Homo sapiens: one gene and its partners. The protein of the gene in region 4 purifies or fractionates together with the protein of the main gene of each other region. This does not show direct contact. Each region holds a gene or a part of one and is shown on either strand. Other genes may lie near its edges.

Evidence for each region.
Region 1: the proteins of C9orf78 (region 4) and XPO5 purify together in Homo sapiens (affinity purification with mass spectrometry, with the first as the bait; one large-scale study listed by BioGRID). This does not show direct contact.
Region 2: the proteins of C9orf78 (region 4) and TUBGCP2 purify together in Homo sapiens (affinity purification with mass spectrometry, with the first as the bait; one large-scale study listed by BioGRID). This does not show direct contact.
Region 3: the proteins of C9orf78 (region 4) and NPEPPS purify together in Homo sapiens (affinity purification with mass spectrometry, with the first as the bait; one large-scale study listed by BioGRID). This does not show direct contact.

The regions. Positions count from the first base shown.
Region 1 is NC_000006.12:43,566,039-43,569,538, forward strand, and holds part of XPO5 (exportin-5), read right to left. Parts: intron 2,700-3,500; coding exon 2,673-2,699; intron 1,317-2,672; coding exon 1,131-1,316; intron 1-1,130. UniProt on the Homo sapiens protein: Mediates the nuclear export of proteins bearing a double-stranded RNA binding domain (dsRBD) and double-stranded RNAs (cargos). XPO5 in the nucleus binds cooperatively to the RNA and to the GTPase Ran in its active GTP-bound form.
Region 2 is NC_000010.11:133,295,373-133,298,872, forward strand, and holds part of TUBGCP2 (gamma-tubulin complex component 2), read right to left. Parts: intron 2,740-3,500; coding exon 2,580-2,739; intron 2,033-2,579; coding exon of another isoform or gene 1,949-2,032; intron 1-1,948. UniProt on the Homo sapiens protein: Component of the gamma-tubulin ring complex (gTuRC) which mediates microtubule nucleation.
Region 3 is NC_000017.11:47,534,108-47,537,607, reverse strand, and holds part of NPEPPS (puromycin-sensitive aminopeptidase), read right to left. Parts: intron 1-3,500. UniProt on the Homo sapiens protein: Aminopeptidase with broad substrate specificity for several peptides. Involved in proteolytic events essential for cell growth and viability. May act as regulator of neuropeptide activity.
Region 4 is NC_000009.12:129,829,533-129,832,275, reverse strand, and holds part of C9orf78 (splicing factor C9orf78), read left to right. Parts: intron 1-302; coding exon 303-380; intron 381-1,207; coding exon 1,208-1,405; intron 1,406-2,734; coding exon 2,735-2,743. UniProt on the Homo sapiens protein: Plays a role in pre-mRNA splicing by promoting usage of the upstream 3'-splice site at alternative NAGNAG splice sites; these are sites featuring alternative acceptor motifs separated by only a few nucleotides. May also modulate exon inclusion events.

The DNA.
Region 1 (3,500 bases), on a different chromosome or scaffold from region 4:
CTGAGATCAGGAGTTCGAGACCAGCCTGGTCAACATGGTGAAACCCTGTCTCTACTAAAAATACAAAAATTAGGCCAGGTGCCGTGGCTCACACCTGTAATCCTAGCACTTTGGGAGGTCAAAGCAGGTGGATCACTTGAGGTCAAAAGTTCGAGACCAGCCTGGCCAACATAGTGAAACCCCATCTCTACTAAAAAATACAAAAATTAGCTGGGTGTGGTGGCACACGCCTGTAATCCCAGATACTCAGGAGGCTGAGGCAGGAGAATTGCTTGAACCCGGGAGGCAGAGGTTGCACTGAGCTGAGATTGCGCCACTGCACTCCAGCCTAGACAACAGAACGAGACTCCATCTCAAAAAATAAATAAATAAATAAATAAATGTGTTGGGCAATAATGCTGATATGACAGCAAAGTAAATTACATTTGTAGATAATATTCCTATGGAGAAAAGAGTCACAGTTCCATTGGTTAGCCAAGACAGACATAGGCTTGGCGCAGTGGCTCACGCCTGTAATCCCAGCACTTTAGGAGGCTGAGGAGGGCAGATCACTTGAGCTCAGGAGTTCGAGAAGAGCCTGGCTAACATGGCAAAACCTCATCTCTACTAAAAAATACAAAAATCAGTCGGGCATGGTGGCGTGTGCCTATAGTCCTAGCTACTCGGGAAGCTGAGGCAGGAGAATCGCTTGAACCCGGAAGGCGGACGTTGCAGTGAGCCAACATCACGCCACTGCACTCCAGCCTGGGTGACAGAGCAAGACTGTTTCAATTAAAAAAAAAAAAAAAAAAAAAAGACAGATATAAACCTACTGTAGCCACCATCCAAGATTCCTTGACATTCATTAAGTGAGCTTTAAACTTAAACATTTACTTTTATCTGTTAACTGTAAATTGCCAAGTATCATGGCTATTTCAAGAACCATGCAGCCTGATAAATCTCCACATTCTGCCAAAGGATCCCTTGAATATTGGCAAACTCCTGTCCAAGGGGGTTGGAAGCAGGCAGTAAGTTGGCCCCAAGGAAAAAAACCCAAACCTTTAAATGACTTTCTGCCACAACATGCAATTAAACACATACACAGCCTACTTCAGAGACTGAGGATAAGTCAGTTTGAAGTGGTAACTTACTTTTCTGCTGACTGCAATGAGAAGACACTCAGCGGCTCCCAACTGAAGTTCCTGTTCATTCAACAGCAAACACAGTATCTCCAGGAGTTTACAGTTTTCAGCAGTGATGTGACTCATAGACACCCAGTCAATATAGCCTGCTAGAGTATTCAGTGCTGCAACTCCTACTCGACAGTTTGCTTGCGCCTACCAGAAAAGAAGTAACTTTGGACCATGAAGTCCTCGGTAACAGGTAAGGAATCAGTGGTTATAACTGAACTCCCATTTTCTAATTCTAAGAAAATTATTTTTTAAGAATATACTCATGTAACAGTCACAGGTAGGGAACACAATCACTTCTCAAACAATGACATTCTCAACATCCAACAACAAGACCATACTGGCATGTGTGGCCATTTTATCTTTTTCACAAAACCCCAAATCTTATCATTTTACTTCCCAAGGCTGGGTGCAGTGGCACACACCTGCAATACCAGCACTTTGGGAGGCCAAGGTGGGTGAATCAACTGAGCCCAGGAGTTAAAACAACAGCCTGGGCAACATGGCAAAACTAGTGTCTACCAAAAAAACAAAAAATAAAATAAAATAAAAAAAATACCCTAACCAAAAAAATACAAAAATTAGCCAGGCATGATGGTGTGCATCTATAGTCCCAGCTACTCATGAGGTTGAGGTAAGGCTCACTTGAAGCCTGGAGGCTGAAGCTGCAGTGAGCCACGTTTGCGTCACTGTACTCTAGCCTGGGTGACAAAGTAAGACCCTGTGTCAAAAAAAAAAAAAAAAAGTAAGTCTGTTTTTGTTTTTTTTTTTTACTTCCCTTCAACCATAGCTCAGTGATCAAAAACAGAACAAAGGACAGGCTGGGCATGGTGGCTCACACCTGTAATCCCAGCACTTTGGGAAGCTGAGGAGGGCGGATGATGAGGTCAGGAGATTGAGACTATCCTGGCTAACATGGTGAAACCCCGTCTCTACTAAAAATACAAAAAATTAGCTGGGTGTGGTGGCGGGCACCTGTAGTCCCAGCTACTCGGGAGGCCAGGCAGGAGAATGGCGTGAACCCAGGAGGCAGAGCTTGCAGTGAGCCGAGATCGCGCCACTGCACTCCAGCCTGGGCAAGTGAGCGAGACTCCGTCTCAAAAACAAAAACAAAAACAAACAAAAAAAACAAACGACAGATGCAGTGGCCCACAGTCACTTCAGGAGGTCGAGGCTGGAGGATCACTTGAAGCCAGGGGTTTGACACCGGCCTAGGCAACACACTGAGACCCTGTTTCTATAGAAAGTATTAGCTGGGCATGGTGGTGCGCACCTATATTCCCAGCTACTCATGAAGTTGAGGTGAGAGGATCACTTGAGCTGGGGAGGTCATGGCTGCAGTGAGCTGAGACCACACAACTGCACTCCAGCCTGGGCAACAGTAAGACCTGTCTCCAAAACAATACAACACAAGCAAGGCTGAGGTCACCATCCACTAGGGGCACGTATCCCCTCACCTGAAAGGTTCAAAGGTCTCCTTCAAACTTTATAAAGAGCTCTTACCTTTGACTCCTGAGAAGTATCTGTCTTCTGAAAGGAAGTATAAAGATCCAGTGTTTTTAATGAGCAAAAGGCCACATAATAACTTTCTACCCCCCACAAATCAATGCCCTTGAATAATGATTCTTAAATATATGCAATTTTTCATCTTGGAAAATAACACAACTTTACTAAGCACGCATAACTGATATTCCCCTAGGGAGAACAAGTAAAGTCAGAAGCATAATTAAATGAATACAATTCATGAACATGTATGTATAGCCTAAGTATATGAAAACCATGTACTCAAAAATACTGGATGTTGGCCAGGCGTGGTGGCTCACGCCTGTAATCCCAGCAGTCTGGGAGGCCAAGGCAGGTGGATCACCTGAGGTCAGGAGTTTGAGACCAGTCTGGCCAACATGGTGAAACCCCATCTCTACTAAAATTACAAAAATTAGCCGGTGTGCTGGCGCATGCCTGTAATCCCAGCTACTTGGGAAGCTGAGGCAGAAGAATCACTCGAACCCGGGAGGCAGAGGTTGCAGTGAACCAAGATTGCACTACTGCACTCCAGCCTGGGCAACAAAAGTGAAACTCCGTCTCAAAAAAAAAAAAACAACAAAAAAAAATACATATATATATGATGTTAAATACATCAGAATAGTGGCTATTCAGTGAATATACAAATATGGTTGATTTTTATCCTTATATTTCAAATCCATACAAAGGCACATAATGTTAACTTACAAGCATACAAAATTAGGCCAGGCGCGGTGGCTCACGCCTACCATCCCAGCACTTTGGAAGACCAAGGCAGGCGGATTATTTGAGGTCAGGAGTTCAAGACCA
Region 2 (3,500 bases), on a different chromosome or scaffold from region 4:
GGAGGTCGAGGCTGCAGTGAGCTGAGATTGTGCCACTGCACTCCAGCCTAGGCAACGAAGTGAGACCCTGTCTCAAGCAAAAAAAGAGTCAGTTGCTTCACCTCCCCAATATTCAACATCCTCAGTGTCATCTCAACACCTGCGATGTCACCTGCAAATCACCACGTCCGAACGACCACCGAACACGTGGCTCCTCCGTGCCGGTGTGGGGAAAAGGCAGGACGCGGGCAGATAACACCTTCGCATGCTGCGCGGGAGCGACCAGAGGGAGGGGCACTGCGGAGGCGGCGCTGGCCAGGTGGATGCCCACACGGTGAGGAGAGCATGGCGGGAACGTGGAGTGCTGGCAGCTGCCTCGTGCTCACAAGGTCCTGATGCTTTCCAAGGCACCTGTCCTCATCACACCACTCCACAGCTGTTTTCCAGAGGACGCAGGCCCGAGGTCACACAAGGTCCCGTGGTGTGGCACTGGTCAAATCGTGGGGTGAGGAGCTAGACAGGCCCCGGCATGAACACCACAGTGAGCTCCATTCTCAAGTCTGCACAGGTGGCACAAGGGGACAGGGACAGTGCGGACAAAGGGAGGCAAGGCAGCCTCAATACCGGAGGCACCCCTGGGACCTGTGGTATGTGGCCGTGGGAGGGAGGTGGGGCGAGGCCGCCCCTTTCCTGGGATGCTGAGTGTGCTGAGGGCACCTGCACCCTGACCTGAGAGCTGGCTGCAGGGTTCACAGCCAAGTCTCACACACTTGCTGCCAATCACCGCCACGCTCAGAGCTGCCCACGGCGCCGCAGCGTTACTGGACAGTGCGTTCCTCTTTTGTACAACCCCTTCCCTGAATGGGGAAACATGGGGGGAAAGCCTGAACACCCCCTCAGTGCCTCCTGCTCCAAAAAGCCGGCTCCACTGCTGGGATCCCAGGCAGCAGGGCCCCGCGCTTCCTTCTCCGAAGTCTGCCTGGGTACCATCAGGAGCTCTCAGGTGCCCACCACTCCCCGGCTGCCTGCTGAGTACCCGCTAAGGGAGCAGCTCTCTCTCCCTAAGTCTTCACAGTTGGGTTTTCACAGTTGGATTATTACTGAAAACACTGCACAAAGCAGACTGCTTTGTTTTTTTTTTTTTGAAACAGGGTCTCGCTCTGTTGCCCAGGCTGGAGTGCAGTGGCACGATCACAGCTCACTGCAGCCTCGACCTCTCAGGCTCAAGTGATCCTCCCACCTCAGCCTCCTGAGTAGCTGGGACTACAGGTGCACGCTACCACACTCGGCTAATTTTCACATTTTTTGTAGAGACTAGTCTCGTCCTGTCGCCCAGGCTGGTCTCGAATTCCTGGGCTCAAGGAATCCACGCACCTCACCTCCCTAAGTGCTGGGATTACAGGTGTGAGCCACCATGCCTGGCCGAAGTAGACTGTTTTCCATACTTTTCATTAACTTACAGCATGGTTTTCTATACTTCTCATAACTTACAGCAGGGTTTTTCTATACTTTTCATTAACTTACAGCAGGGTTCTGTTTGCTTGGGGATGAGGAAAACAGGTGGATTTCACGTCACCGTTCTCCAGGGTTTCCGGCAAAGGCAAGGGTTGGCCCCTTGGTGCCCACATTGCAGAGCCGTGAGTAGTGGGGAAGCAGACCACGCTCCATGCTGCCTCTTGAGTTTGGACTAACGGGGATGGGGCAAGATAAGCAGGTATGCTCTGTCCTTAGTTTGTGAAATCTCATTTTTCAATCTAAAAATGTACTTGACTAGGCGTGGTGGCTCATGCCTGTAATCCCAGCACTTTGTGAGGCCAAGGTGGGCAGATCACCAGAGGTCAGGAGTTCGAGACCAGTCTGGCCAACACGGCAAAACCCCGTCTCTACTAAAAATATAAAAATTAGCCAGGCGTGGTGGCGCCTGCAGTCCCAGCTACTTGGGAGGCTGAGGCAGGAGAATCGCTTCAACCTGGGAGGTGGAGGTTGCAGTGTGCCGAGATCACGCCACTGCACTTCAGCCTGGGCGACAGAGCGAGATTCCATCTCAAAAGAACTAAAAATAAATAAAAATAAAAATGTACCCATGAATTGTGACAGATGAACACATCCCAGGTCCCCAATAACAACGTCTTGAAATGACTGTGTGGTCTCACCCGCATCTTGTTTACACGAACACTACTTAAGAGGCCTCTGAGAATACTGCTGTAACAGAATCTATGGGAGTCATGAATCGCTGTTCAGAAATAAGTGCTGCACACAATTCTGATGCCTGCAGGTCTGCACCAGGGCACCAGGATGCCGGCTGGGGAGGGGCCTGCTGCAGGCTGCCCCACAGCTCTGGCAGAAGGGACAGGAGAAGAACCCTCAAGGACCCGGGTGAGCCGTTCTCTGCTGCCATCCTGGGATGGGAATATGGAGGCGGCAGCCAGTCAGCATTGAGCCTCACAACCTGAGGAAAGGCAGGCCCGGGGGAGGGCTGGGCCTGCAAAGTGTCCTGCCCAGAGGCCAGAAATAAACACATGACATACCTATCGGCAGAGCCCGGAAATCAACGCATCACGTACCTATCGGCAGAGCCCGGAAATCAACGCATCACGTACCTATCGGCAAAGCGGTGTCTGTGCTGATGCCAGCACCAATCAGGAAATCCCCGATCAGGGCAGGTCTCTCATACACCCATGCTGGGAAGATGGGGAGGTGCTGGCCTGAATTTTTTTTGTTCTGCTTGTCTCGAAGCATCTTTCTTTTAAGTTCCAGAGACTAGCAAGGACATTTTAAAAAACAAAACCAGAAAGATACACTTTAGCGCAAACACTCAACTAAAGACATGCATAGAAGCTAGCATCTACGGCAAAGATGATTACTCAATTCAACACCCACAAAGGGTCAACCACATAGAAATGAAATGCGCCTCGACATCCCTGCCTGCCACAACGTGAGGGGCTGGGGACAACAGGGCAGATGGGGAGCCCTAGCCCCTCTTCTCAGGAGTGCAGGTCCTGCAAGGGCCCCCCTGGGAAAACATGAGCACCAGCAGTGGGAACCACGGGAGAGGGTGCACCTAGGCACAGAGCCGCTGTTTCAAAGGAGGGCGCCCTGTGAACAAGCTGAATTGCTTCTTTCTGGCAGTGACTAGGTCTGAACACCACTTGATGGGTGAAGACAGGCTTCAGCAACAGACATGCATCCTTACCCTGCCGGAGAAGGGCCCCAGCGTGACAGGATGGCTCCTGACATGTGGTCAGAGAGCCTGCCCTCCTGCGCCAGTGGCCGCCAGAGGCTGATGGGGTCGGCCTGGGCTGGCCCAGCTTTCGGAAGCACTGACTCCCACTCAGGGCTGGTCAGGGACACGGGCAGATGCAAACTGTCTCTGCACGTGGCAGTAAGACCCAGTCTTCTGCCACGGCTGAGGGAGACGTGGACAGAGGCCTAGCACCATGTCCAGCACAGAACGTGCCCAGCAAGAACCGGCTGGGTCCTTGGGAGCCGCTGCACTCAACACGCACCCAGGAGGCTAGGAC
Region 3 (3,500 bases), on a different chromosome or scaffold from region 4:
AATTCTCCTGTCTCAGCTTCCCGAGTAGCTGGGATTACAGGCATGTGCCACCACGCCCGGCTAATTTTTGTATTTTTTTGTAGAGACGGGGTTTCACCATGTTGTCCAGGCTGGTCTCAAACTTCTGACCTCATGATCCACCCACCTCAGCCTCCCAAAGTGCTGGGATTACAGGCGTGAGCCACCACACCCAGCCTAGTAAACTTTTTTAAAAATGTCTAAGGGCCTCAAAGGGTAAACTTCAGTTATCTGGAAAATTCACTGCAGAATTCATTGCCAGATGAATTAGACAAAGCTTAGCATACAAAACTGTTATACTTCTTTCCTCACAGATACATTTCAAAAAACAGAAAATCTGAACAAATTCAATTCCTTATCACCAATATTTTGAATTTAATTTTATATATATGAATTTTTTTTAAGAAAATTTCTTCCTTTTTTTTTTCCTGGAGACAGGGTCTTGCTATGTTGCCCACACTGGTATCAAACTCCTGTGCTCAAGCAATTCTCCCACCTCCACCTCCCAAAGTGCTAAGATTACAGGAGTGAGCCACAGTGTTGGCCAAAATGATTACATAGAAAATATGCAGAAAATGGCCAGGCACGGTGGCTCATGCCTGTGATCCCAGCATTTTGAGAGGCCAAGGCGGGTGGATCACCTGAGGTCAGGAGTTTGAGACCAGCCTAGCCAACATGATGAAACCATCTCTCTACTAAAAATACAAAAAATTAGCTGGGCTTGGTGGTGCGCGCCTGTAATCCCAGCTACTCTGGAGGCTGGGGCAAGAGAAACACTTGAGCCTGGGAGGCAGAGGTTGCGGTGAGCCGAGATCGCGCCATTGCACTCCAGCCTGGGCAACAAGAGCAAAACTCCGTCTCAAAAAAAAAAAAAAAAAAAAAAAAGAAGCCAGGCACGGTGGCTCGGTGGCTCACGCCCATAATCCCAGCACTTTGGGAGGCTGAGGTGGGTGGATCACCAGAGGTCGGGAGTTCGAGACCAGCCTGACCAACATGGAGAAACCCCGTCTCTACTAAAAACAGAAAAAATTAGCTGGGCGTGGTGACGCATGCCTGTAATCCCAGCTATTTGGGAGGCTAAGGCAGGAGAATTGCTTGAACCTGGGGGGGCAGAGGCTGCGGTGAGCCGAGATCATGCCACTGCACTTCAGCCTGTGCAACAAGAGCGAAACTCCATCTCAAAAAAAAAAAAAAAAAAAAAGAGAGAAAATATGCAGAATTTGGGCAAAAAATTTGTAACACAGAATTGACAATAACCATTCAGGTGCCAAATTTTTAATCTGCCAAACAAACTACTATATTGGCAACTATTCACTTAGTGCCAATTTAGTTATCTCCAACATGTATATTTTGTTAGTAGAGGCCAGGGGTTGGCTAGGATATCCTGATTTCTGGCCTTGAATGATAAACTTAGTTTCTCTGGCACAGGTAAAATATTTCCATAAGAGAAAGCCCAGCTGGGCACGGTGGCTCACGCCTGTAATCCCAACACTTTGGGAGGCCGAGGAAGATGGAATGAGGTCAGGAGATCAAGACCATCCTGGCCAATATGGTGAAACCCCATCTCCACTAAAAATACAAAAAAATCAGCCAGGCATGGCGGCGCGTGCCTGTAGTCCCAGCTACTCAGGAGGCTGAGGCAGGAGAATTGCTTGAACCCGGGAGGCAGAGGCTGCAGTGAGCCAAGATCCCGCCACTGCACTCCAGCCTGGGTGGCAGAGCAAGACTCCATCTCAAAAAAAAAAAAAAAAAAAAAAGAATACCCAATTATTGTACCAACCACTACACACTCATAATCATAAATAGTAGTCACACACATAAACTTATAATTCATTTTAATTAATTATCCACAAACGGAGAGGATCAAAATATGAAATATCTACAAAAGTCCACTGCTCTCAAGTATCCAGTGTAAAGGGAGGGGACAGGGAATGAAATAAATTTTGGGCCTAGAGAAACTTCTGTATAATAACAAATTTTCAAAACCAGCTAGACCACACTAATGTGAAAGACAACTAATTTTTTTTTTTTTTTTTTTTTGAGACGGAGCCTCGCTCTGTCACCCAGGCTGGAGTGCGTGGCGCGATCTCGGCTCACTGCAAGCTCCGCCTCCCGGGTTCACACCATTCTCCTGCCTCAGCCTCCCGAGTAGCTGGGACTACAGGCACCCGCCACCACGCCCGGCTAATTTTTTGTATTTTTAGTAGAGGCGGGGTTTCACTGGGTTAGCCAGGATGGTCTCGATCTCCTGACCTCATGATCTGCCCGCCTCTGCCTCCCAAAGTGCTGGGATTACAGGCGTGAGCCACCGCGCCCAGCCTTTTTTTTTTTTTTTTTTTTTTTTTTTGAGACAGAGTCTTGCTCTGTTGCCCAGGCTGGAGTGCAGTGGCGCAATCTCAGCTCACTGCAAGCTCCGCCTCCCAGATTCACGCCATTCTCCTGCCTCAGGCTCCTGAGCAGCTGGGACTACAGGCTCCCGCCACCACGCCCAGCTAATTTTTTGTATTTTAGTAGAGATGGGGTTTCACCGTGTTAGCCAGGATGGTCTCGATCTCCTGACCTCGTGATCCGCCCGCCTCGGCCTCCCAGAGTGCTGGGATTACAGGTGTGAGCCACCGTGCCCGGCCAAGACAATTGATTTTTAAATCACTGAACATGGACTAATTTCTTCACCTTCTGCAGCAGTCCACACCCCAGGCCAGGTTAAAAATCCACTAAGTTGGCCGGGCATGGTGGCTCATGCCTATAATCCCAGCCCTTTGGGAGGCCAAGGGAAGGGGATCACCTGAGGTCAGGAGTTCGAGACCAGCCTGGCCAACATGGCAAAACCCCATCTCTACTAAAAATACAAAAATTAGTTGGGCGTGATGGCACACACCTGTAGTCCCAGCTACCCAGGAGGCTGAGGCAAGGAGACTCGCTTGAACCCGGCAGGGGCACAGGGTGGAGGCTGCAGTGAGTCGAGATCACACCACTTCACTCCAGCCTGGGAGAAAGAGCGAAACTCCATCTCAAAAAAATAAAAATAAAAAATAAAATAAATCCACTAAGTTTCTAATATGTAACCTACACAAATACTCTGGGCTTATCGTAAAATTTTGTAACTAAAGCAACTAAGCAACTTGCATGTTTTGTGTTATGTGATTCCAACTGTTAGGAAACTGATCCAATATCAGTCATAAATATAGGTTTCTACAGATAAGAATTTTGTCGCCGGGCACAGTGGCTCACGCCTGTAATCCCAGCTCTTTAGGAGGCCAAGGCGGGCAGATCACGAGGTCAGGAGGTCGAGACCACAGTAAAACCCTGTCTCTACTAAAAATACAAAAAATTAGCTGGGTGCAGTGGCGGGCACCTGTAGTCCCAGCTACTTGGGAGGCTGAAGCAGGAGAATGGCGTGAACCCGGAAGGCAGAGCTTGCAGTGAGGCGAGATCGTGCCACTGCACTCCAGCCTGGGCGACAGAGCGAGACTCCATCTCAA
Region 4 (2,743 bases):
GTAAGGGACTTCACTATCTGCAGATTTTGGTATCCTTGAGGGACACTAGAACCAATCCCCCATGGATACCTAAGGATAAGTGTATCCACTCAATCCTTGGAGGTATCACTAGCAGCCAACAGTTTGCTTGCATATATTTCTAGAGTTTCTTTTCTTTACATATACTACGGCATTTTTTTTTTTTTGCCAACTGTAAATAGGATATTATAAATGCTTATGTCTTTGTTTTCTTCTTAGAACATAAAACTCAGCCTCATTGAGTTGTGACTTGAAAGCTCTGCCTCATTGTTCTCTCCCTCCAGGATCAGTGAGGAGGAGGACCTGCACCTGGGGACATCGTTTTCTGCAGAAACCAACCGAAGGGATGAGGATGCAGACATGTAAGTGTCAGTCTGTTTGGCTGTGAGCAGTTGGGGCTGGACTCCAGTCAGAGTCCAAGATATTTAGTCAACAGATGACATTTCTAGAATTTTCTAGAAGATGTCAAAGTTGGCCCCTCTCTTTCTACTTCCCAGCTTAAGAACTTTGAAAACCTCTTAAAAGGTCTTTTCAGGCCGGGCACGGTAGCTCTCACCTGTAGTCCCAGCACTTTGGGAGGCCGAGGCAGGTGGATCATCTGAGGTGGGGAGTTCGAGACCAGACTGACCAACATGGAGAAACCCCGTCCCTACTGAAAATACAAAATTAGCTGGGTGTGGTAGTGGGCACCTGTAATCCCAGCTACTCGGGAGGCTGAGGCAGGAGAATTGCTTGAACCTGGGAGGCAGAGCTTGCGGCGAGCCAAGATCTCGCCATTGCACTCCAGCCTGGGCAACAAGAGTGAAACTCCGTCTCCAAAATATAAAAAATAAAAACTTGTTTTCAAAGGTGGTTTCATGACTAGTAATATTTCCCCAAAACATTGCAGGGATAAAACATGGGCTTGCCCACTTTTTATTTTGCCAACAAAGCTATTGGCAAACTATCATCTTTCTGTCTTCAAAGAACCTTGTACATCATAACACCAATAGATTAGTGGGACATAACCTCATAGGTTGGTGCTTCTTTAGAAAATTTCTAACTTGATGAAAAAACTCAAGTTATTTTTTTTCTCGTTTCTCCATGGACTGTCACTGGTCTGCGGGCCAGTGTTGGGGACCACTGATTTAGAGGACACCTGGTGTGTGTTTCCCACCCCTCCCTGAGGCCTCTGGGTTTCTCACTTCAGGATGAAGTACATTGAGACAGAGCTAAAGAAGAGGAAAGGGATCGTGGAACATGAGGAACAGAAAGTTAAGCCAAAGAATGCAGAGGACTGTCTTTATGAACTTCCAGAAAACATCCGTGTTTCCTCAGCAAAGAAGACCGAGGAGATGCTTTCCAACCAGATGCTGAGTGGCATTCCTGAGGTGGACCTGGGCATCGAGTATGTTTGAGACCCCTAGGCAGAAGACACAGTGCTTTCCAGTTAAAAGTTATGGGGGACAGGCCAGGCACGGTGGCTCATGCCTGTAATCCTAGCACTTTGGGAGGCTGAGGCGGGTGGATCACGAGGTCAGGAGTTCAAGACCAGCCCGGCCAAGATGGTCGAACCCCGTCTCTACTAAAAATACAAAAATTAGCTGGGCATGGTGGCAGGCACCTGTAGTCCAGCTACTTGGGAGGCTGAGGCAGGAAATTGCTTGAACCCTGAAGGTGGAGGTTGCAGTGAGGCGAGATCATGCCACTGCACTCCAGTCTGGCGACAGAGCAAGACTCCATCTCAAAAAAAAAGGAAAAAAAAATTTATGGGGGACAGGTATGGTGGCTGATGCCTATAAGCCTATAATCCCAGTACTTGGGAGGCCAAGGCAGGAGGATCACGTGAGGCCAGGAGATCAGCCTGAGAAATATAGTCAGACTCCTGTCTCTCAAAAAAATTTAAAAAATTAGCTGGGCTGTCACTTGAGCTCAGGAGTTGAGGCTACAGTGAGCCATGATTGCACCACTGCACACCAGTCTGGGTGACAGAGTAAGACCCTTTAAAAAAAAAAAAAAAAGGCCAGACATGGTGACTTGTGCCTGTTATCCTAGCTCTTTGGGAGGCCAAGGTGGGAGGATCACTTGAGCCCAGGAGTTCAAGACCAGCCTGGGCAATGTAATGAGACCCCATGTTCTTATCTGTGTCCTTAGAATCCTACAAATACAAATGAGATTGTCCCTGGCAGGTTGTTGCTAGAAGTTTCGCTGAAGGCTTGATCAGAGTAGTAAGGGCCCCTGACTGCTGGAAGCAAAAGTGGTTCTTTAGCGTGTTACAGCTGTTCAGCTGTATCAGGCCCTTTATTCTTCTGTTTTCTTCTAGCAGGAGCCATGTTAAAGGCTCACTCACCCCTTCTCCCCATGATCCTTCTTAAAATATCCACTTTAAAAGGGAATTGTTATGGAAGAGGTACAATTGTTAGAATAATCTTCTGGTACAGTAGAAAGCTGGGAGGCTTCTGGGCTCTTTTCTGGCCTTTACAAACTTTGAGCCTTAAGCATTTTACTTCTCTGAAGCTCAATTTGCTCTTGATCAGAAGAGCAGAGTAACTGTGGTTCTCCGACAGCCGTGAGAGTCCCGTGAGAATGTGACTACAAGTGTGCTTGATAAAGTGGAGAGCTGTGCCCCAGGACACATGATTTTCTTATGTACTGCTGGGCTGCCAGCCTCACCACTCATGTCTGAGTAGTAAGGTGCTATCATCTTCTAAGTGGTGTGGTTTCTTTCTCTCCATAGTGCTAAAAT